Linked DNA regions of Homo sapiens. The protein of the gene in region 5 interacts with the protein of the main gene of each other region in a pairwise test. Each region holds a gene or a part of one and is shown on either strand. Other genes may lie near its edges.

Region 1 (3,500 bases), about 41 Mb from region 5:
AGATAGAAAAAAAAATTAAATGTTGCCACTTGTCCTGAGCTGGAAAAATGGCTAACAGCTGAACTGGTAAGAACTTAGCATGGGGTCCCTGGACCTCTGTGCCAATGACATTTTGGGTCCAATAATTTGGTGTGGTGGGACCCATCCTGTGTGTTGTGAGATGTTGAGCAGCGTCCCTGGTCTCTCCACACTGGCTGCCAGGGACACTACCCCTCAACCCCTGAGTTGTAACAATGAAAAATGTCTCCAGGCCGGACGTGGTGGCTCATGCCTGCAATCCCAGCACTTTGGGAGGCCAAGGCAGGTGGTTGCTTGAGCCCAGGAGTTTGAGACCAGCAAACTGTCTGCTGCCTGGGCAACACAGCAAGATCTCATTTCTACAAATGAAAAAAAAAATTAGCCAGGCATGATGTTGTGCACCCGTGGTCCCAGCTACTCAGGAGGCTGAGGCAAGAGGATCAGCTGAGCTCAGAAGGTTGAAGCTGCAGTGAGTAGTGATCACACTACTGCACTCTAGCCTGGGTGACAGTGTGAGACCCTGTCTGAATTTTCTTTAAAAAGTCTCCAGACACTGCCAGGTGTCCCCTCCCCTGGGGACAAAATTGCCCCCAGTTGGGAATCACTGACTTAATGGAACTAAAAACAAATTTAAAAGATCCCTGAAAAAGAAAAAAAAAGCATGAATCTGTCAGCTCTTAAAATATGGCCCTGTAATCTGGTGCTGTGAACTGAATTGTGCCCCCTCAAAATTTATACATGGAAGCCCTAACTCCCAAGGTGATGCTTTGTGGAGATGGAGCCTTTGGGAGGTGATTAGCTTTAGAGGGGGTCATGAGGGTGGGGCCCCCACAATGGGACTGTTTTATTTTTTTTTTGACATGGAGTCTTGCTCTGTTGCCCAGGCTGGAGCACAGTCTTGGCTCACTGCAACCTCCGCCTCCCGGGTTCAAGCAATTCTTCTGCCTCAGCCTCCTGAGTAGTTGGGACTACAGGTGCACGCCACCATGCCCGGCTAATTTTTGTATTTTTAGTAGAGAGGGGGTTTCACCATATTGGCCAGGCTGGTCTCAAACTCCTGACCTCAGGTGACCCACCCACCTTGGCCTCCCAAAGTGCTGGGATTACAGGCGTGAGCCACCGCGCTTGGCTGGGACTAATGTTTTGATAAGAAGAGGAAGCGACACCAGAGCTCGCTGTCTGTCAGGTGAACACATGGCAAGAAGGCAGCCGTCTGCAAGCCAGGAAGTGAGTCCTCAGTGTGGTCTGACCATGCTGGCACTCTGATCTCAGACTCCCAGCCTCTAGCACTGTGAAGAAATAAGTGTTTATTGCTTCAGCCACCTAATCTGTGATTTTTTTTGTAAGCTGGAGCTAAGATAACTGGAAAGACAGTTTTCTTTTCTGGGGAAAAATCAGTTGAAACTTTAATTCCCAGTGTGACAGCGTTTGATGTGGGGCCTTTGGAGGATGATTAGGTCATGAGGGCATCCTCCTTAATAGGATTAGCGTCCTTATAAGAGGAGACACCAGGGGGCTCACTTACTCTCTGCTCTCTCTGTCCTCTCTGCGTGTGAGGACACAGGGAGAAGGCGGCCATCTGTAAACCAGGAAGAGAGCCCTCACCAGACAGAATCAGCCAACAGTGATCCCAGATTTCACATTATGGGGACACTATTCAACTCACTATGCTCCCCTTCTACAGGGCTCCATCAGTGAAGGAGCTGCCCAGGGTCTCCCAGGCTCAGAGGTTCATGCTGGCTCGTGGGCCCAGGGTCGTTAGAGATGGTGATCTCAAGCTATTGCAGGTTACCCTGTCTGCTTTGCACATTTTCAGTGGAAAGCAGGGATCTGTTTTTATATGAGCCCAGGAAGTCACTGTTTTTTAGAAAGCCATAACAGAAGCCATACATATAGTTACTTCTAGTGGGGCTGTGATGCTGAAGGATTTATACCAATTGCCTGGTGTACACTGGACCTGCACGCTGGCGAGAAACTCACCACTGACTTCTGATGCTTTAGTTCTAACAGAATGGGAAGACAGATGGACAAATGACCTCCTGGTGCTGAGAGAGGGAAGGAGGCAGCTGCCTGTGGATCCACTGTGCTGGGGCTAGCCCCAGAGGAGGGGGCTCACACTGCTGGGAGGTCCTTTCCAGGCTGTGTGGCTGCAGGTAAGTGGCTACCTGCTCTGAGGCTCTGCCTGGTTTTCTCTCTCTAAACAGGGCTCCAGCCTCCCCTTCTCCCGAGGGACATGGCAGGTCTCTCAGCAAGCTTGGCCTCATGTTATGTGTGGGCTCAGCCCCTCACACACAGGCATTCCCTGAACCAACTAGTAGGCTGTGTGCATACAGCAGAGAGTGCTCGGCCTTTGGCTCCTCCGGGTACACTCCTGCTGCTGCTGGACAGGCTACGTCTGAAGCTTGTCCTCCCCACTTCCTGTGTGAGATCCTAACCCTTTGTGGTGGTGCTAGGAGGTGGGGCCTCTGGGAGGTGATGATGACATGAGGCTGGAGCCCTCAGGCGTTGGATTCCTGCCCTTATAAAAGAGGACCCAGAAGGCTCCCTTGCCCCTTCCTCCAAATGAAGACACAACAAGAGGGCCCGGTCTATGAACTAGGAAGCAGCCCTCACCAGACACCAAACCTGCCGGCACCTTGACCTTGGACTTCCAGCCCCTAGAACTGTGTGGAAATAAATGCTGTTTCTTTCTTTCTTTCTTTTTTTGTTTTTTTGTTTGTTTGTTTTGTTTTGTTTTTGAGATAAGAGTTTCGCTCTTGGTGCCCAGGCTGGAGTGCAGTGGCACAATGTTGGCTCACTGCAACCTTCACCTTCCGGGTTCAAGCGATTCTCCTGCCTCAGCCTCCTGCATAGCTGGGATTACAGGCATGCGCTACCATGTTCAGCTAATTTTTTGTATTTAGTAGAGATGAGGTTTCACCATATTAGTCAGGCTGGTCTCAAACTCCTGTCCTCAGATGATCCACCCACCTTGGCCTCCCAAAGTGCTGGGATTACAGGCATGTGCCACTGTGCCCGGCCAATAAATGCTGTTTCTAAGCCACCAGAGTATGGCATTCCGTCACACCCCAAAGGACCTAAAATAGGGCTTTTTTTTTTTTTTTTTTTGAGACAGGGTCTTGCTCTGTTGCTCAGGCTGGAGTGCAGTGTTGCAATCATAGCTCGCTGCAGCCTGGGAATCCTGGCTCAAGTGATCCTCTCACCTCAGCCTCCCAAAGGGCTTGGATCACAGGCAGGCACCACCAACCACACCTGGTCAAGACAGGGCTTTTGTGTGGGCTATTCTTTCTGCCTGACATGCTCTTCCCGCAGCGTGTGCCTCAGCAAGAGGACAAGAGGAGACCCTGAGGGAGTGATGATGTTTGTGTTCAGGGTGGAGAACACAGCAAGTGCAAAGGTCCCAGGGCAGGATGGTGACAAGGGTGGCAGAGGAAAGGTAAAGGGGGTGGGGCTGGACAGAGCAACTGAGGTGCAAGGCAGGG
Region 2 (3,500 bases), about 20 Mb from region 5:
AAATGAATTTGATTACTATTGAAGTAAGTAATGCATTTCTGTGATTCAACAAAGATCTATCTCACAGAGATATCTCATTCTGCTCCCTTCCCCCAGTCACATTCTTCTTTGTCTTATGTAAACATGTCTTGTTTTTTTTTGTTTGCTTCTTGTTTATCCTTCAAGTGGGTTTTTTGTTTTTTGTTCTGTCACTATTATATATTTCTCTTCACTCCTGTTTCCCTCCACCTTACATAAAAGATAGCATACCACATGCACCTCCCTATATCTCACTTTCTTTAATAACAGTATGTCCTAGAGATAGCCCTTCCTTTTTTCTTTCTTTTTTTTTTTTTTTTTTTTTTGAAATAGTCTCGCTCTGTCACCCAAGCTGGTGTGCAATGGTGTTAACATGGCATACTGCAGCCTCCAACTGCTGGGCTGAAGTGATCTTCCTGCCTCAGCCGCCTGTGTAGCTGGGACCACAGGCACACTCCACCACACCTGGCTTTTTTACTTTTTGTAGAGATGAGGTCTCACTGTTTCCCAGATTGGTCTCGAACTCCTGAGCTCAAGCAGTCCTCCTCTCTTGGCTTCCCAAAGTGTTGGGATTACAAGTGTGAGCCACTGCACCCAGCCAAGGTGTTCCTTCTTAATCATAATCTTTAAAAGAAATTTTTTTTTCAGCTGCTGTATAAATAAGATGTCATTATTTGGATGCACCATGGTTGATTCAGTTAATCCCGTTGTTGAGCATTTGGATTGTTTCCAGTCTTCTGCTGTTGCTAACAATGCAGTAATGAATAATTTTTTTATGTGCGCCATTTTATACTGACACAGGAGTAGCTCTAAACTAGACTGCTATTAATACAAATGGCGCTGCCCAGTGGGTAAGTACTTACACTCCCACAAGCCATGTGCGAGAGCGTCTTCCCCTTAAACTCACCATGAGTGTAGTGTCGAATATTTGGTATTTCGCTAGGGACATAAGAGACAATCTGAACTTCAGTGTAGGTTTCATTTACATCCCTTCTTATGAATGAGAATTTTTTTTTATATGTTTAAAGGCCTGTATGTATTAATCTAGGAACTGTCTATTCATATCCTTTTCACCATTTTTCTATGGGGTGTCTTCTCCTTAGAGGAGCTGTTTATAAATTAGAAAGGTTAGCCCTGTATGAAATGAGTGGTGGCTTTTTTTTTTTTTTTTTTTGAAGTTTTCATTTGCATTTGGACATTGTTCACAGTGGTTTCTTTTTTTTTTAATCTTGCAGAAATAAGAGGTTTTGTTTTAATTTAGTAATAATAGTTTCTTTTTTTACATAGCCGTGCTTAGAATGAGCCCCCTGTGGTTGGTGAGCACAGAGACATCCCCGCACCACACCAAAGACCTTTTTATTCATGTATTTTTTAGAGGCACAGTCTCACTGTGTTGCACAGGCTGGCCTTGAACCCCTGGGCCCAAGCAAGTCTCAGACTCCCAAGTAGCGGGGACTACAGGCAGTGCACCACCATGCTGCTATGGTTTTCTTTTTATTTTCAAAACTTTTGGCTGGGCGCGATGGCTCACGCCTGTAATCCCAGCACTTTGGGAGGCTGAGGCGGGTAGATCACTTGAGGTCAGGAGTTTGAGACTAGCCCGGTCAACATGGTGAAACCCCGTCTCTACTAAAAATACAAAAAATTTAGCCAGTCATTGTGGTGCACGAGATCACACCACTGCACTTTAGCCTGGGCAACAGAGTGAGACTCCGTCTCAAAAAAAAAAAAAAATCTAGTTACATTTTTTTCTTTTTGAGATGGAGTATCTCTCCGTCCCCCAGGCTGGAATGCAGTGGTGCGATTTCGGCTCACTGCAAGCTCCGCCTCCCGGGTTCACGCCATTCTCCTGCCTCAGCCTCCCAAGTAGCTGGGACTACAGGCGCATGCCACCACGCCTGGTTAATTTTTTCGTATTTTTAGTAGAGACGGGGTTTCACCATGTTAGCCAGGATGGTCTCGATCTCCTGACCTCGTGATCCGCCCGCCTCGGCCCTCCAAAGTGCTGGGATTACAGGCGTGAGCCACCGCGCGTGGCTGATTCATCAGTCTTTTATGGTTATCAGACTTTTCCACTCTTAAGTTTCACCGATATTTTCAAATTCTTATAAAGTTACAGTTTTTTGTTGTTTGATTGTTTTAGAGTTGGATCTTGATCTGTCACCCAGGCTGGGGTGCAGTGGCGTGATCACAGCTGACTGCAGCCTTCATATCCTCGCTAATTTAAAAAAAAAAAAATTGTAGAGATAAGATCTCCCTGTGTTGCCCAGGCTGGTCTCAAACTCCTGGGCCCAAGTGATCCTGCTACCTTGGCTTCCCAAGTCAGAGCAATAGTTTTTTTAAGATTTTGTTTTTATTTTAATTTATAATCCATTTAGATTTTATCCTGGTGTATGCTATCAGATATGCATCCAGCTTTACCTTTTTCCAATTGGCTACCACGTTCTTTGACATCATTTATTAAAAGGTCTTACCTGGCTGGGCACGGTGGCTCACGCCTGCAATCCCAGCACTTTGCAAGGCCAAGGTGGGTGGATCACTTGAGGTCAGGAGTTCGAGACCAGCCTGGCCAATATGGAGAAACCCTGTCTCTACTAAAAATACAAAACATTAGCTGGGTGTGGTGGCACATGCCTGAATCCCAGCTATTCGGAGGCTGAGACAGGAGAATCGCTTGAACATAGGAGGGCGGAGGTTGCAGTGAGCTGAGATTGTGCCACTGCACTGCAGCCTGGGCAACAAGAGCCAAACTCCATCTCACACACATTAAAAAAAGGTCTTATGTTTACTATTTTTAGGATGCCACTTTGATTATATACTAAATTCTCACATTTATTTGGTCTGTTTCTGGGTGTGAGCAGAAAGACTGAGGACACTGCTATAGCCCAGGTGTAACAACCAGGGAAAATATTTATCTTTTTACTATTGAGGCTTTATCATTGTGTTTTACTTTGTGGTATAGCTAGTCTCTTAATTGCTCGTCCTTTTCAGTGTTTCCTGGCTATTCTTGCCTGTTTATTTTTCTTTGTAAATTTTAGGATTAGCTTGTCTCGTTCCAGAGGGGGAAAAGGTAGAACTAGTTTGTTACTTTTATTGGGATTGCATTAAATTTATAAAATAACTTGGGAATAGGGACATTTTTATGACATTAAATATTCCTCTTTATGTACGTGATACGTATTCTCGTTTCTTTTTGGGTCCTCTAGGGTGTTTTAAAATTTTTTTCATACAGGTTTGGACACTTCTTACTAAGTTTATTTCTGGATGTTTTGTTTTATGTTGCTATGAATGGAGTCATTGTTGGCATATATGAAGCTGTTGATTTCTACATACTAATATTATTCCCTGCTTTCCTTAGTTATTTGTAATTAGATTATATAATTGAGGCAGTAGGCATCCTTGTCTGTTTAGAATCTAATAGAAATGCCTTCAGTGTTTTTCTATTACTTTTATTATCATGATTTGCTTTTCAGTGTTTTTAC
Region 3 (3,500 bases), on a different chromosome or scaffold from region 5:
AGAACCCTTGGGAGAAAAGAAGGATGAGGTCTCAGGGAAACAAAGGCAGAAGTAAGAAGAGGGGCAGAAAATGGGGAAACTAGTGCCTTCTCCACTCTATGAACACAGAGTATAGATAAGGAGAGTACAGATACTGAGGCAAAAAGATTCCAAGGTTTTTCTAGAAATAGCACAAAGCTAATGGAAGATCTAAGGCTGTAGTGTAGCTGCTGGTGCCCAGACAAAGCAATCCTCATTCTGAAATTTAAAGAATCTGTGGCCTGTTCACTCCCAATCCATTCACCCTAAGTCATGGTTCCCAAACCGTGTGTGAAATTCACCAGTTCAGGATACCATCTGAACTTAGAGCACCACAGCCAACTCAGAGAGGCATGTGGAGTATTTTAAATTCGAAGGAAACACAGTAACATCTTTCAGATACCATGCAATCTGCTATCATTAGGTTGTTTGGCCCTAACTATGAGGTATTTCTTTTGGACCAGGGGTGAAAATTACTAAAATATGAAATGTGCTGTGATCCATGAAAGCTTGGGAACCTCTGCTCTACAAAGCATGCCCCACCTATAACCAACTTCGTAGTCTTCTTACTCAAAGAAGAGGTACATTGGAAATAGATCTATTTCCTCAATTAAAACACCATACACCAGTTACTCCTTCTTAAATATAAGTGGACAAGCAAGGAAGGATCACCCACCATGAGGAAGAATAAGAGCATATCAGAGAGACAGAGAGACTCCCTCCACCCCTGGAAACATATAATTCAGGGAAAAGAGAGGAAAAAAACACCCTCTCACCAGTATACCTAGAGATCTGAGATTATTATATTTACCCCATAGACTGCTATGATAAAGGATCACTCAGAACAAGAAAGAGCTTTTAGAGACTAAAGACATGATTACTGAAATTTAAAAAAACAAATAAACCAAAGAATAGTTTGTTTGTTTTTCTTCCTCATGTTGGGTGATCCTTCCTTGCTTGTCCACTTATATTTAAGAATGAATAACTGATGTATGGTGTTTTAATTGAGTAAATAGATCTATTTCCAAGGTACCTCTTCTTTGAGTAAGAAGACTACGAAGTTGGTTATAGGTGGGGCATGCTTTGTAGAGCAGAGGTTCCCAAGCTTTCATGGATCACAGCACATTTCATATTTTAGTAATTTTCACCCCTGGTCCAAAAGAAATACCTCATAGTTAGGGCCAAACAACCTAATGATAGTGATGAAAAAGTTAAAGGAAATTTCCCAGAACATAAAGCAAAAAGACAAAGAAAGGAAAAAAGAAGAGACAGGCATAATCCAAGAAATCCAAAATCCAGTTAAGAGGCATCCCAGAAAGAAAAAATAAAGATAAGAAGCGAAAGGAAATTATGGAAGAAATTAATGGAAAAAAATTTCCCAAAACTAAGGTAGTATATGAGTCTCCAGATTATAAGGATCCAACAAGTACCAAGGCCATTAAAAGACCCACACTTAAGCACATTCTAATTAAATCCCAAAATACCAAAGAAAAAGTTCCACAAGTTCCAGAGAGCAAAAATGGTCACCTGAAAAGAGAATTACACCAGAATCAAATTTTTCATCAAGACTGTAGGCCTGAAGACAATGAAGCAGCGTCATCAAAGATATGAAGAAAGTTACTTTAGATTTCCATACCCAGTCAGAGGATGAATAAAGTAAAAGAGACTAAATTTATATTTAGATACGCACAAATTACCCCCTTTTGCACCCTTCCTTGGAAAATACTTGAGGATGTATTAAATAGTTCCTAAAATAAGCGAGAAAGAAATGCAGGCTACACAAAATAGTGGATTCAATCCTAGAGATGGGGTGAAAGTAAGTCCCAGCATAAGAGTAGACAAATCCAGATTGGAACAGGAGGATGGAAGAGGTCTAGGTTTTAGAGAAGGATTCCATGAAAGTGTGTTTCAAAAGACTTTTCTGTGTTTTTTCAGAAAAACCCGAAGCCATGATGAAGGAATATTGTTATTTTGACAAGAGTGGGGGAAAGGCCATTATAAACTCTAGGACAATAAAAAAGCAATACAAAAAAAGGCACTGTCCAAATAAGATAAAAACAAAAGCAGGGCCTGACTTTAAGCACTTGATGGAATACAAGAAAAGATTCCATATGACTGTGAGGTTAGAAAAATTTCTCCCTTTGAACAGACAAGCAGTTGTGACACTGGACCCATCAAGTATGATTTATAATCCTAGCATACTACTTAACTCTTCTGAAACAATATTTACTTAGTTATAACTATGTAATGTCGTTTCAATTTTTTAGAGACAAGCTACGGACAAAACACTCAAGATCTGGTTGTAGAACAGTGTGGGTTTTAACAGTCTCGTAAATGTAAAAGTAGAACATGCAGTTGACAAAGGTATGAGGTGGAAGTTGGGCCTAAAAGCTAAAACTTCTCATAAAGTGGTCTGTTGATGTGGGAGAGCACACCAGACAACCTCAGGAAGTATATACTAGGGCCAACACACAAAATTCAACATCTTAATACTTTCTCTTTTAAATTTTTATTTGTTTAGTTTTTGAGACAGGGTCTTACTCTGTTGCTCAGGCTGGAGCGCAGTGGCGCAATCTTGGCTCACTACAACCTCCGCCTCCTGAGTTCAGGTAATTCTCCTGCCTCAGCCTCCCAAGTAGCTAGGAATACAGGCGTGCACCACCAAGCCTGGCTAATTTTTGTATTTTTTGGTAGAGGCGGGGTTTCACTGTGTTGGTCAGGCTGGTCTCAAACTCCTGGCCTAAAGTGATCTGCTTGCCTTGGCTTCCCAAAGTGCTGGGATTACAGGCGTGAGCCACCACGCCTGGCCCGTCTTAGTATTTTCTTACACCCTGCATCCGTATTGGGCTGAATAATCCAAGCATCTTCCAGTAATATACAGACACTAAATTCTGATATGCATTTTCCGATAAAGGTTTGCCTTAAAAACTTTCCATTCCAGTCCACTCATGTAGTCTAGGAGTTGGTACACTTTTTCTGTAAAGGTCTAGATAGTAAATATCTTTAGCCTTCTGGGCCAAAAGGCCTCCAAATAATTTTGTTGGCATCCTAGTAGGCAGTGTCCTACTTGCCAGCCTCAGCTTACCACACTTGAGCAAACTTTTCCACCATCCAGTGGGCTACAGCCACACCTCCTTCAACATCATCTGAATCTTAGCTTGGGAAAGGGGTGGGGGCACCTATTCCAAATTTGTTCCTTCTGTGGCTATTCTGCCTCAGCCTTAGAAGTACTGACTACTACATGTATTTTCTAGGGATCTCTTTACCTTAGCGTTTTGTCCTCAGTAGTTAATTCTCTGTGCCTTGTTAATAATGTTTATATTAAATTTCCTGTATTCAAATTGCTGTGTGATTTCTCTCCTTCAAATGCACTGTGACATATATTTCAATAATTACGTTAAATATAAGTGGTCTAACTACTAATTGAAAGGTTAGATTGTCCTGTTGGACAAAAGAAGCAAGACTCAACTATATGCTGTTTA
Region 4 (3,500 bases), on a different chromosome or scaffold from region 5:
TCATGTGTCGGGATAGATGAGAGTGCTGGCGAAAGCTGGCACTGCACTTGGCACACTTATAAGGTTTCTCACCAGTATGGATTCTCCTGTGTGTCCTCAGGTTGGCTCTATGATTGAAGATCTTTCCACAGTCACCACATTTATGTTTTTTCTCTCCTGAATGAATTTTCTGATGCAAAACTAGGTATGAATGATCGCTGAAGTTTTGGTCACACTCAGGACATTTGTACACATTTTTGGCTCCTTCCCAGGGAGAATCAAGAATTTCAGAAAGTGTGTTGGTTCCTAAATATTCAGAGAGTTCTACTAATGGGGTGTGGTTTTCAATGGTAACTAAAAGGCTGATGACCCTTCTCTTGTAAGTGGGAGTTCCACTTAATATTTTCGCTTCAGGGTTTCCAACTCCATCCTCAGAGGATTTTTCTGGGTAAGGGACAAGGGGTGCAGCAATGGGGTACTTTTCTAAGGCAAGCTCGTCAAGTTCCATAGACTCTAGGCTTAACTGCTGATTAATCTCAGGCTTGCCTTCCTCTCCTGTTGATAAAAACAAAAGAAAGCAAAACATAGACAATATCTTCAAGGGATACTGGGGAAAAAGTAAGCTAAGGTAGTTACAAACAGGACCAGGAAACCTTAGAAGGGTTATTCTATAACCCAGACACTAACCACACAAAATCAGGACCAAGCAGACTCTCCTGGCCTCCCAGAAGATCCAGTTTTGGGTGAATATCCAAAGGTAAGGAGAGAATAGCTATAACTAAGTCAGAGTCCAGTGGGATAGGTACTAAGGACAATCTCAGTAGCAGCTATCTAGAGGTGAACTTTTCCATCTAATCTATTTAGGCCTCAAGAGCCTTTCATTTTTGAAGCTATCTCAAGTGACAGCAGAACAATTAACAATTGGAAAAAAGATTAGGATTCATATTTATCAACAAAGAGAGGGGTTGGGCAGTGTCTCACGTCTGTAATCTCAGCACTTTGGGAAGCTGAGGTGGGAGCATCACTTGAGGCTAGGAGTTTGAGACCAGTCTGGGCAACACAGTGAGACCCCATCTGTACAAAAAATAATTTTTAAAAATTAGCCAGGCATGGTGGCACATGCCTATAGTCCTAGATACTCAGGAGGCTGAGACAGGAGGATCACTTGAGCTCAGGAGTTTGAGATGTGCCATTGCACTCCAGCCTAGGTGACAGAGCCAGAACTTGTTTCTTAAAAAAAAAAAAAAAAGATGACAGCAAGAATGAGTGGGAAAGAAAATAATTTTTAAAAAGAGGCTGGGCACGGTGGCTCACACCTGTGATCCCAGCACTTTGGGAGGCCGAGGCGGGTGGATCACGAGATCAGGAGATCAAGACCATCCTGGCTAACACGGTGAAACCCCATCTCTACTAAAAAAAAATACAGAAAATTAGCTGGGCGTGGTGGCCTGCGCCTGTCGTCCCAGCTACTCGGGAGGCTGAGGCAGGAGAATGGCGTGAACCCAGGAGGCGGAGCTTGCAGTGAGCCGAGATCGCGCCACTGCACTCCAGCCTGGGCGACAGAGCAAGACTCTGTCTCAAAAAAAAATAATAATAATAATTAAAAAAGAAAAAAGAAAAAAAAGCAATCAAGTGAGCATTTTTCTTCCATAACAAAGAAACACACGGGTTATCAGAAATAGTTTTATTATCACCAGGAGAACTCTCCAAAATCTCTTTACTCCTCACTGAGGAAAGATCAAGGTAGAAGGCTGTGTGTACTGCATGAAAATAACAGCCAATCTACTTACAAGAATGGCTGACAAAACTAACATTCCTGTGTAATATTTTCCAAGTATTCTTCAGTTATAAAGCAAATATATCAATACAAAAGGAACTTTTCTTTCCAGAGAAACAAAGTTCTACAGTTTTCCCAACTCACTGACTAGAAAGGGCTGCAGTATAGTTCATGGGAATCCAAACAGTACCAAGTGGTTTTGCTGATTTGAGGGGACTGAGTTCAGAGATCAGGGATGCCAAGGCAGCTAGAATTTGAAAGCAAAACAGCAAAGAGGCAGCTGTTCAGAAAGAGAGCTCAGGTCATCTACATGGGGTCCCCTTAAGACTTTCCTGAGGCTAGGTACAGTGGCTCAAACCTGTAATCCCAGCACATTGGGAGGCTGAGGTGGGAGAATTGCTTGAGCCACGGAGCTCGAGACCAGCCTGGGCAACATGGCAAAGCCCCATCCCTACAAAAAAAAAACAACAAAAAAAGACAAGCATGGTAGTGCATGCCTGTAGTCCCAGCTACTTGGGAGGCTGAGGTGGGAGGACTGCTTGAGCCTGGGAGGTCAGGGCTGCAGTGAGCCGTGATTGTGCCACTGCACTCCAGCCTGGGTGACAGATCAAGATACTGTATCAAAAAAAAAATAACCCCACAACTTTGGCTGAGTAGTAATCTACAAGTGCATGAAGAAACTACCCAATGCCGTGGAAAGAACCACCTAAAAGGAATAACAGAGCAATAACCAGTTCATGTTGCCTCCAGCCAAAGTGGAAAGACATAAGACATTGAGCAGCAACGTCCACAGAAAAAAACTGCCTTAGCAGTAACTCAAATAAGTCCTAGCAGAAAGGTTGATCTGAACCTATCCTAACAAAGCAAAAAAAAAAAGCACACCTTGAAACAGTCAAACTGACTCCAAGTAACTTAACTGCCTCCCACAACAAAGTCCAAAATATTTTTAAAAATACAACGAAATCCCGGGTCCAACAACATAAAATTCTTAATCTAACATCCGACCAAAATTTACCCAGGAAGTAAAGAAAATATAGAAAATATAACCCATAACTAGAAGACAAATCAATCAATAGAAACAGACCCAGAAATGACATCAATGTTAAAACTAGCAAGAAAAAAAAGTTTAAATAACCATTATAAATATACTCCATACATTTACGCAGACAGAAGACAACATGAACATGATGAAGAGAGAAGTGGAAGAAACAAAATATGAGTTATTCAGAATAACTAGTTACTCTAGTTATTTTTTTCTGACTAGGATTGAGTATCTCAACTATTCCAAACTATTTAGAATAACTACTTAGAATAGATAGTTTAGATACTCAATCCTAGTCAGAAATAAAATCTAGTCAGGCACAGGAGTCCATCTGTGTATGGTTCCCCTTAGGTGAGTAAGGCATAGCACCCCTTAAGAGTAAATCAATCTCCAGTCTTTAGCAAATGATAGTGATCGATACTAATGGGATTTCCCAAGTAAAATTGTAAACTGCAACAAATGTTTGTGAAAGATTACCAAATACTGCCATCTCTTGTACTAAACCACAGGCACTGTACTAGACTGAATTTTTGTCTTTAAGAGATCATCTCGGCCGGGCTCAGTGGCTCATGCCTGTAATCCCAGCACTTTGGGAGGCCGAGGCGGGTGATCACAAGGTCAGGAGATTGAGACCATCCTGGCTAACACGGTGAAACCCTGTCTCTACTAAAAATACAAAAAATTAGCTGGGCATGGTGGCAG
Region 5 (3,500 bases):
GCCTGGGCAACAGAGCAAGACTCCGTCTCAAAACAAACAAACAAACAAAAAGAAACATCACTGTGTACCCCATGAATATGTACAATCATTATTTGTCAATTCAAAAAATAAAAAATAAAGTGAAATTTAAAAATTATAAGATAATAATAGCAACAGCAATTTATTAAACACCTATTGTGTGCCAGGAGCTGTGCTGAATTTTCTCCATATATTAATTTGGGGTTCAGCAAACCTTTTTCTGTAAATGGCCAAATAGTTGATGTTTTCAACTTTATACCATGACGCAACTCTGTTGTTGAAGCACACAAGCAGCCATAGACAAAATGTACACAAATGGGTGTGGCTGTGAGCCAATACAACTTTACTGATGGACACAGAAAAGTGAATTTCGTATCACTGTCACGTGTCATGGAATAATCTTTTTTTAAATTAAAAAAAAATTTTTAATGTGTTTATTTATTTTTGAGACAGAATCTCACTCTGTGACCCAGGCTGGAGTGCATGGCACAATCTGAGCTCACTGCGGCCTTGACCTCCTGGGCTCAAGCAATCCTCCCGCCTCAGCCTCCCAAGTAGCTGGGACTACAGGCATGCACCACCATACCTGGCTATTTATTTATTTATTTATTTGTAGATATGGACTCTCCTTATGTTCCCCAGTTTGGTCTCAAGCTCCTGGGGTCAAGAGATCCTCCCCACTTAGCCTCCCAAAGTGCTGGGATTAAAGGCATGAACCACCCCACCTGGTTGGAATATTATTATTCTTTGATTGTTTTTTGATCTTTTGAAAATATAAAAGCCATTCTTAGCTCACAGGAGGTACAAAACCAGGCTTTGGGTCAGACTGGCCTATTGGCCGTACTTTGCCCTGCAGTGGCGGCTGATTTTCCCCAAAGGCTGCCAAGTACAGTTACACAGTCTGTTCACTGCAAACTGTTCAGGCAACAAGGGCTGAAGTCCAGCCACATTCTGCTTGCTGAAAGAGGTGTATCCACTCGCAAGAGGTGCCCAGGGGGTCCCTAATTATCCCCATTTTACAGATGCAGGGACTGAGACTAGGGAAATTGAGAAAGTTTCCCAAGGTCATGAAAGAATGAATAGAGGAATTTTCAGAAACAGAGTCTGTGAACTGTCTGCGTAAGAGCCCCTTCAGATGTGCAAATGGACTGTGGGCGGTGACGGAGAGCATCACCTGAGGAAGTCTGGTGCCCGGAGGATCATGTTCTGGAAATCTTCCAGGGACAGCCGCCCATCATGGTCTCCATCAGCCTCATCCAGCACCTTCTCACATACCAGGCTCACCTCCTCGGCACTCAGCCCCCCCCGCGTCAGTTTGGTCACCGTCTGCTCCAGGTCCCACGCACAAATGTAGTCGTCGTTGTTAAAATCTGCAGAGCAGGATGGATGGGGAGTGACAGCAGGTGGCAGGAGGGCTAGGCCGGCTGTGGGCACATACTGTGCCCATGTTACAAGAAGGGGAAACTAAGGTCGGGCACGGTGGCTCACGCCTGTAATCCCAACACTTTGGGAGGCTGAGGAGGGTGGAACACCTGAGGTCAGGAGTTCGAGACCAGCCTGGCCAACATGGTGAAATCCCATCTCTACTAAAAATACAAAAATACCCAGGTGTGGTGGCATGCACCTGTAATCCCAGCTATTCAGGAGGCTGAGGCAGGAGAATCACTTGAGCCCGGGAGGTGGAGGTTGCAGTGAGCCAAGATCTCACCACTGCACTCCAGCCTGGGCAGCAAGACAGAAACTCCGTCCAAAAAAAAAAAAAAAAAAAAGGAACTGAGGCCCTGGGAGGGCACCCGAGACCCTGGTGTAAAATCTGGAACTTGCCTTAAAATTGGGCAGGGACCTGCTGGGAGTTCATTCATTCATTCAACAAGTATTTATGCAATGAATTTTTCATTCGTTCTTTTTTTTTTTCTTTGAGACGGAGTCTCGCTCTGTCGCCCAGGCTGGAGTGCAGTGGCACGATCTCGGCTCACTGCAACCTCCACCTCCTGGGTTCAAGTGATTCTCCTGCCTCAGCCTCCCAAGTAGCTGGGATTACAGGTGCCTGCCACCATGCCCGGCTAATTTTTGTGTTTTTAGTAGAGATGGGATTCCCCATGTTGGCCAGGCTGGTCTCAAATTCCTGACCTCAGGTGATCCACCCACCTCGGTCTCCCAAAGTGCTAGGATTACAGGTGGAAGCCACCACACCCAACCTCATTCATTCATTTTTACAAGCATTGAGTGCCTGCTGTGTGCTAGGCACTGTAATAACTTTTTTATTCACTCATACAAGTATTTATTGAGCATCTACTATGTGTCAGGCATCACAGTAACTGATTTTCATTCACTCACTCACTCAACAAGTATTTATTGAGTGCAATTTTCATTCATTCACTCACTTAACAAGTATTTATTGAGTGCCTACTGTGTCCTGGCACTGTGATAATAATTTTTCATTTACTCATTCAAAAAACAGTTATGGGCCCGGCGCAGTGGCTCATGCCTGTAATCCCAGCACTTTGGGAGGTGGAGATGGGTAGATCACCTAAGGTCAGGAGTTCCAGGCCAGCCTGGCCAACATGGTGAAACCCCATCTCTACTAAAATTACAAAAATTAGCGGGGCGTGGTGCGGGTGCCTGTAATCCCAGCTACTAGGTAGGCTGAGGCAGGAGAATCGCTTGAACCCAGGGAGTGGAAGTTGCAGTGATCTGAGATCGCGCCATTGCACTCCAGCCTGGGCGACAAGAGTGAGACGCTGTCTCAGTAAAAAAATAAATAAATAAAAATAGTTATTGAGTGCCTACTATGTGCCAAACACTGTGACAGCTCTTTCATTCATTTATTCAAGTATTTCTTGAACACGTACTACGTATCAAGCACCATGATATCTGTTTTTCATTTATTCACTCACTCAACAAGTATTTATTGAGTGCCTACTGTGTAGTGGGCACTGTGATAACTTTTTTCATCTATTCACTCAAAAAGTACTTTTTAACTGCTTACTGTGCACCAGGCACTGTAATAACTTTTTCATTTATTCATTCATTCATTCATCCATTCAGGAAGTATTTATTGAGCACCTACTACATGTTGGGCACCATAACTCTTTTATTCACTCACTCAACAAGTATTAGTGTCTACTGTGTGCCAGGTACTCTGATAACTTTTTCATTCATTCATTCATGCAACAAGTATTTATTGAGCACCTACTATGTGTTGGGCACCATGATAACTATTTTTCATGTACTCACTCAAAAAGTATTATGGTGGCAGGGCACGGTGGCTCATGCCTGTAATCCTGCCACTTTGGGAAGCCGAGGTGGGTGGATCACTTGAGGTTAGGAGTTCAAGACCAGCCTGGCCAACATGGTGAAACCCCATCTTTACTAAAAATACAAAAATTTGGCTGGGCGTGGTGGTTCATGCCTGTAATCCCAGCACTTTGGGAGGCTGAGGCGGGTGGATCACCTGAGGTCAGGAGTTCGAGACCAGTCTG
Region 6 (3,500 bases), 7.0 Mb from region 5:
CCAATATTTGATTTTATCCCCATATTCAACTTAATCACAGTATCCCAGGATATTCAGAATTTGCAGATGTAAATACTGTAGAGAGAATAATTATTTTGTTACTTTTACTGACTGGTATTTCTGCCCTTGCTAGAACCATTTCTACCACTGTTATTCACGTAAATATAGGCCCAGCATGGTGGCTCATGCCTGTAATCTCAGCACTTTGGGAGGCTGAGGCGGGCAGATCATTTGAAGTCAGGAGTTCAAGACTGGCCTGGCCAACATGGTGAAACCCCGTTTCTACTAAAAATACAAAAAAATTAGCCAGGCATGGTGGCACATGCCTGTAGTCCCAGTTACTTGGGAGGCTGAGGTGGGAAGATTGCTTGAACCTGAGAGGCGGAGGTTGCAGTAAGCCAAGATCATGCCACTGCACTTCCAGCCTGGGTGACAGAAATGAGACACTGCCTCAAAAAAAAAAAAAAGAAAAAAAGTATATAAATAATATATACAATATATATATAGCGAGAGACAGAGAAGGCAACAAAGGTTGTGAGAACATCATATGCCATTTTCTTGGTCCAGAAATGCATTACATTAGTAAATCAATATACCCTCCTTTCAACCAGCTAGATGAGATGTCCCAGGGGGTGGGGAGCAGGGTAGGAATTCTGTTTCCAACAAGCAACCTAGGTGCCCCAATTAAACCTTCCATGCATAACTATTTCAAATGCAACACAAAGTACAGACAGATGATAGGTTTCAAATTCATGTGCTGGCAAGAAATTAACATTCAGAAAATTAAAAATTTATGATTTCTAAAGGGCAATTACAATTGCTAAAAAAAAAGCAAAATGGAAACCCACAACAAAAGCCCTAAGTAAATAGCTTTTAGATTATACACAGCCAATAATAATAATAATAATAATAATTTGTTTCTTAAATATAGTCTGCTGCATAAGCGTCCCCTGGAACACTTTAAGTAACTCTGACACCCAGATCATATCTCAGTTCAATTCTCTTTGGGGTGGGCTGATGAATCAGTATTTTAATAAACTCTACATGAAATTTTTATGAAGGCTGAAGTTTCAAAGCCAGTTGTAGCAATAAATGCAAGGGAAGCACAGAAAAAGAGTTGAGGAACATAAATACAGCTAAGAACCACGTGGGGGCAGAAGATAAGGAATTGAACCATTTCTAACTGGAGTTACTGATGAGAGACAGAGAAGGAGCCTAGGCAATCACTGCAAAATATAGTGGCTGTAGATTTTTCATTTTGAAGGAAAATATAAACAGATTGAAGAGAGATAAAATCTTAAGCACAATGAACCAGATAATACCAACGGTAAAAAGAATATCTGAACAGCAGCCAGAGGAGAAAAAGACAGGTTACCTTTTAAGCAATAGTTCTCAAACTTTAAGTTACATGGGAGTCACCTGGAGGTCTTGTTAAAACACACCGTAAATATCTCTCCATTAAGAAACAAAGTAAGCCTGGGCATGGTGGCCCACACCTGTAATCCCAGCATGCTGGGAGGCCAAGGCAGGTGGATCACTTGCACGCAGGAGTTCGAGACCAGCCTGGGCAACATACCAAGACCCTGTCTCAAAACAAAACAAAACGAAAAACTCACATTTCTAGGCTCCTAAAACCGCTGCCTGGCCAACATGGTGAAACCTTGTCTTTACTAAAAATACAAAAATTAGCTGGGTGTCATGGCCCATGCCTGTAATCCCAGCGACTCAGTAGGCTGAGGCAGGAGAATTGCTGGAACCCAGGAGGCAGAAGTTGCAGTGAGACGAGATTACGCCATTGCACTCCAGCCTGGGCAACAAGAGTGAGACTCTGTCTCAGAAAACAAACAAACAAACATTAGACTGACAGCTGACTTCTCATCATTAACAGTGGAAGCCAGAAGATAATGGAACATCTTCATAGTTCTGAAATATAAAATTCTATTACCACCAAAAATGTCCACTGAGAAAGAGAGAAAGAGGTGTTTTCTGAGCACCAAAAAACAAAGTTCCTGTGGGCTTGCAACCCACAGAAAAGAGACATCATCAAAGACATACCTCAGGGAGAAAGAAGTAATTAAAGAACCAAAGCAAACAGTGGAAGAATTACACCAAAAAGTGTAAGAACCAAGTAAAGTGCTCAAAGTGATAAACATGTGAGTATAATGAAACAAGAAATGATGGTATGCAATAGCAATAATAATTTCTTCTGAGGTTTAAAAAAAGAACTCAATATGTGCAACTATGATATATCAATAAAGAAAGAATGAAAATGCATAAGAAAACCATGTAAATCAGGAGAGTAACATATGCAAATCTAGATTTAGTGAATGAGCATGGGTAAGAATTATTTAGAACAACCACTGAAATAATAGAGTAAATAAATTCAAAATGTACAGAAAATAAAAAAGGAGAATGACAAAAATACACAAAAGAAGCTAGAGAAAAAACAGAAGACAAATGTAACATTCAAATATATTAATACAGAAGATGCTAACAGAATAAATGCTTTAACTAAAATACTAATATTCACAGAATAGATTAATCCAATTATATGCTACGTACAAGAGATATCTAAAATATAAGAATACAATAAGAGCCGGGCGCGGTGGCTCATGCCTGTAATCCCAATGCTTTGGGAGGCCAAGGCAGGTGGATCACCTGAGGTTGGGAGTTCGAGACCAGCCTGACCAATATGATGAAACCCCATCTCTACTGAAAATAAAAAAATTAGCTGGGTGTGGTGCCATGCGCCTGTACTTCCAGCTACTTGGGAGGCTGAGACAGGAGAATCACTTGATTCCAGGAGGTGGAGGTTGCAGTGAGCCAAGATCGCGCCATTGCACTCCAGCCTGGGCAAAAAGAGTGAAACTCCGTCTCAAAAAAAAGAAAGAAAGAAAGAAAGAAAGAAAGAAAAAAGAGTACAATAAGAATGGAAATAAAAGGATATATAAGGCAAGTAAAAAAAAAAAAAAAGAAAGCTGGTTTGAATGTTAGTATCAGACAGAATAGATTAAGGCAAAAAGGCTCATAGAGAAAAATGAAGTATTACATAATAAAAAGTTATAAATCCAAAAAGAGGTGTGTGTGTGTGCCTGTGTGTATAAAACACAGCCTCAAAAAAAAGGAAAACACAAAAATTAAAAAAAAAAAAGGGGGGACAGAATTCTAAGGAGAAATGGATGAAGCCACCACCAGAGCTCTCACAAATCCAGTTTAAGCAGGCAGTTCAATAACTATGTGCAGATTGAACATGATGAGACAGCACTCATGGGGCCATGTTTGTCTCAGAAAATGCTTGACCACAGAGCAATGCAGTTGGCAAACAATGACCAAAAGATAACCAGAAAAAAAGTCACAGAAATGAAAATTAAAAGAAAAAAATTCTAAATCTGCATGCCAAAGAAGCCATGATATTTGATATTTATAATTAAAATACAATAAAGTATGATACTGCAATTCTTTGGGATGTGACAGGCATTCAACATAAGAAACTGGAAAGA
Region 7 (3,500 bases), on a different chromosome or scaffold from region 5:
TTCAGCATATTAGATAGTTCCTCTTAAATAAAACTTGCATTTTAAAATGGACAGAAAAGAGTTTGACCCTCTTAATCTCTTAAATCCAAGCTCTCCTCAACACTATGCAGGTTATTGGAGGCTATGCTGGTCAGGTTTTACTGCCCAGGGACTTAGAGGGGCATCTCCATTTATCAGTGGCTTATCTAACTTTTAGAGTCCTTGATCAATTACACAGTGCTCATGGAAATGCAAATGAGCATGATCAATCAGTGTTATTGAAAAGCACTTTTGTAAGATGTATCAAAAACCTTTTAAATGTTTATATCTTATGCTCTAGTAATTTCACTTTAAAAATCTTTCTTCTTGAGGTACAATCAGAGGTGTGGTCACAGATATTGTCTAGACACTATCATAAGAGTACCAGCTCTGGGTTTCAATGCCAGCCCATCCACTTTTTTTTTTTCTTTTTTCCTCACTATGTCTTATGGTGCTAAGCTGCCACTTTCTAATTGTGCAATCTGGAACAAAATATGTAGCCAACTGTCCTGTGCCTCGTTTCCCTCTTCTGTTAAATGGTAATAATAGTAGGTTTGTTACAAAGATTAAATTCGTTAAATAGTAATAATAGTAGGATTTGCCAGGCACAGTGGTTCACACCTGTAATCCCAGCACTTTGGGAGGCCGAGGCGGGTGGATCACCTGAGGTCAGGAGTTCAAGACCAGCTGGCTAACATGGTGAAACCCGTCTCTACTAAAAATACAAAAGTCAGCCAGCCATGGTGGCATGCACCTGTAATCCCAGCTACTTGGAAGGCTGAGGCAGGAGAATTGCTTGAACTCGGGAGGCAGAGGTTGCAGTGAGCCAAAATCGTGCCACTGCACTCCAGCCTGGGCGACAGAGCGAGACTCTGTCTCAAAAAATAAATAAATAAGTAAAAAATAATAGTGGGATTGCTACAAAGATTAAATTAATTAAGATGCATAAAGAACTTGAAACAGAGCCCATCACTTTGTTAGCGATTCGACAAATGTTAACTATCATTATAAGCTATTATTGCAAAAACATTCATTGCTGTATTATTTGTGATAGAAAAAAATTGAAACAAGTTAAATGAACAGAAATAGAAGCATGAAGACATATTTTTGCACATTCATGCAAAAGAATATAATGTACCCTGGAGGCATCACATAATGGTTAAAAACACAGGCTCTGGAAACTGAATGCTGGCCTGCCCCTGACCAGCTGTGCGGCTTGGGACAATTTTCTCAACAATCTGAGCCTCAGTTTCCTCACCTGAAAATGGAGAAGAACAGTAATAGTGGGCTGACTGGCTCATACACATAAAGCACTTAGAACAGTTCCTGGCACACAGTCATTGCTTCATCAGTTAGTCTCTCCACTTACAGTCAAGTTGGTAGCCTGGCAGACTGGTGATATCTCATGCACACAAAGCTTCCCAGGCAGTAGCTGTGAAAGTACATGCCCTGGTAGGAGATGAACTGAACAAAGCCTAAATTTCCCTTTGTATGAATAGACAAAATGACTGATGCAAGCCCAGGCCTGGAGGCTACGTGCACAACCACCATGCAAAGGAACTGGAAAGAGTTGTTTCACTGCAGTACCAGAACAGACTGCTTTGATTAAGAGAAAAAAGAAAAGGGAATAAAGAAGACAGGCCCCCAAACAAAACCACCCACCAAAGCCACAAACAAGACTTGGCAAGAGAAAGGAGCTGAAAAGGCTTTCCTAAATCTCCAGTCTGCATCCACCTCTTTTCTTTTTCTTTCTTTTTCTTTTTTTCCTAGAGACAGAGTCTCACTTCGTTGCCCAGGCTGGACTGCAGTGGTGCAATCACAGCTCACTGCCTCGAACTCTCAGGCTCAAGCAATTCTCTCTCCTCAGCCTCCTGAATAGCTGGGACCACAGGCATACACCACCACGAGTGCAGCTTTCTTACATGGAAATATTGCGTAATGGTGAAGTCTGGGCTTTTAGTGTACTCATCATCTGAGTAATGTACATTATATCCAATAGGCAATATTTCATCCTTTATCCCCTTCCATCTTCCCACCTTTTGGAGCCTCCAATGCCTATTATTCCACTCTCTATGTCCACATATACCCACTGTGTACCTCCCACTTATAACTGAGAACATGCAGTTTTTGGCTTTCTGTTTCTGACTCATTTCACTTAGGATAATGGCCTCCAGGTTCATCCATGCTGCTGCCAAAGGCATGATTTCATTCTTTTTATGGCTGAGTAGTATTCCATGGTGTATATGTACCACACTTTAATCATCATCTGTTGACAGACACTTAGCTTGATGACTTTGCTAAAGGACAGCTTTATTTCTCATAAGGGTTGAAGCCTGCAGAGAGGCCATTCTGACAGGCTGGGAAATGTAGCCTACCGCCAGAAGCTAGAAGCAAGCACTTCCTCCTCACTGAGTTTTTGAAAGACTAAGGGAAAGAGAATAGAGAAGGGATATTTCCATCTACCGGGGAAAAGATGTGCAGTAACAAACCATCTTGGGAGACAGCCTTCTCACAGATTTAGAAAAGTATATTTAAATTTTGATGAAACTTTTCAAGTATTAAAGTTTGAGTTACAAGCACAAGAGAGGATAAAACAAATCCAAGCAGAGATTCAAATTGTCATATAAGAATTTGTAGGCTGGGTGAGGTGGTTCATGCCTGTAATCCCGCACTTTGGGAGGCCCAGGTGGGCAGAGTATTTGGGCCCAGGAGTTCAGAGACTAGCCCAGGCAACATGGTAAAATCCCATATCTACAAAAAAATAAAAAATAATTAGCCAGGCATGGTGGTGCATGCCTGTAGTCCCAGGTACTTGGGAGGCTAAGGTGGGAGAATCACCTGTCTGGGAGGTGAAGGCTGCAGTGAGCCATGATTGCACCACTGCACTCCAACCTGGGCAACAGTGTGCAACCCTGTCTCAAAAAAAAAAAAAAAAAGAAAAAGAAAAAACAAAAAAGCAAGCAGGCAAGCAAAAACAAACAAACAAATGAACTAAGATCTGCTCCCATGTTACCCCACCTTGCTCCTAAAGGTTGGATGTAGTTTCTTTTATCAAGGAGCAGGTTTACAACCAGCCTTGGAAGCCTGGAAGGTATTGAGATGTTTCTCTGACCCAGTAACCCCAATTCCTAGAAAGGACAGGGATCAGCAGTCACTACACTCTTCTTCCACCCAGCCCTGTCCAGAGCTGACCTCAGGTTACCTCACTGTCAGCAGCACCCCCTTCCTCAAGGACCCTGCCCCCAAAACCACACCTGGAAGCTTGAGACACCACCAGGTCGGTGTGCAGATGGCCGCTATGGATTCCTAGTGAGCATGGCTTGTGAGAAAAAAAGGCAGCCTCATATTGGAAGCCTGTGTTTCCTGAATGCCCCTGGACAGTGATGAGGAGGGGTGGGTAGGCTGCCATTGCCCCATCCCCTGTCTCCTCCCAGCCCTCCAGTGACAGCTCAGACAATGGTGCCCTGCATGTCTGGGTTTAC

The links.
Region 1: the proteins of CIB3 (region 5) and ZNF835 interact in binary tests that used the Homo sapiens proteins (3 or more experiments, as listed by UniProt).
Region 2: the proteins of CIB3 (region 5) and ZNF146 interact in binary tests that used the Homo sapiens proteins (3 or more experiments, as listed by UniProt).
Region 3: the proteins of CIB3 (region 5) and GMCL1 interact in binary tests that used the Homo sapiens proteins (3 or more experiments, as listed by UniProt).
Region 4: the proteins of CIB3 (region 5) and ZNF597 interact in binary tests that used the Homo sapiens proteins (3 or more experiments, as listed by UniProt).
Region 6: the proteins of CIB3 (region 5) and ZNF317 interact in binary tests that used the Homo sapiens proteins (3 or more experiments, as listed by UniProt).
Region 7: the proteins of CIB3 (region 5) and TRIM2 interact in binary tests that used the Homo sapiens proteins (3 or more experiments, as listed by UniProt).

What each region holds. Positions count from the first base shown.
Region 1 is NC_000019.10:56,665,258-56,668,757, forward strand, and holds part of ZNF835 (zinc finger protein 835), read right to left. Parts: intron 1-3,500. UniProt on the Homo sapiens protein: May be involved in transcriptional regulation.
Region 2 is NC_000019.10:36,221,606-36,225,105, forward strand, and holds part of ZNF146 (zinc finger protein OZF), read left to right. Parts: intron 1-3,500.
Region 3 is NC_000002.12:69,832,660-69,836,159, reverse strand, and holds part of GMCL1 (germ cell-less protein-like 1), read right to left. Parts: intron 1-3,500. UniProt on the Homo sapiens protein: Possible function in spermatogenesis. Enhances the degradation of MDM2 and increases the amount of p53 probably by modulating the nucleocytoplasmic transport.
Region 4 is NC_000016.10:3,437,005-3,440,504, forward strand, and holds part of ZNF597 (zinc finger protein 597), read right to left. Parts: intron 535-3,500; coding exon 1-534. UniProt on the Homo sapiens protein: May be involved in transcriptional regulation.
Region 5 is NC_000019.10:16,163,526-16,167,025, forward strand, and holds part of CIB3 (calcium and integrin-binding family member 3), read right to left. Parts: intron 1,389-3,500; coding exon 1,193-1,388; intron 1-1,192. UniProt on the Homo sapiens protein: Acts a an auxiliary subunit of the sensory mechanoelectrical transduction (MET) channel in hair cells. Plays a role in regulating hair cell MET channel localization and function.
Region 6 is NC_000019.10:9,143,397-9,146,896, reverse strand, and holds part of ZNF317 (zinc finger protein 317), read right to left. Parts: intron 1-3,500. UniProt on the Homo sapiens protein: May function as a transcription factor. May play an important role in erythroid maturation and lymphoid proliferation.
Region 7 is NC_000004.12:153,210,943-153,214,442, reverse strand, and holds part of TRIM2 (tripartite motif-containing protein 2), read right to left. Parts: intron 1-3,500. UniProt on the Homo sapiens protein: UBE2D1-dependent E3 ubiquitin-protein ligase that mediates the ubiquitination of NEFL and of phosphorylated BCL2L11. Plays a neuroprotective function. May play a role in neuronal rapid ischemic tolerance.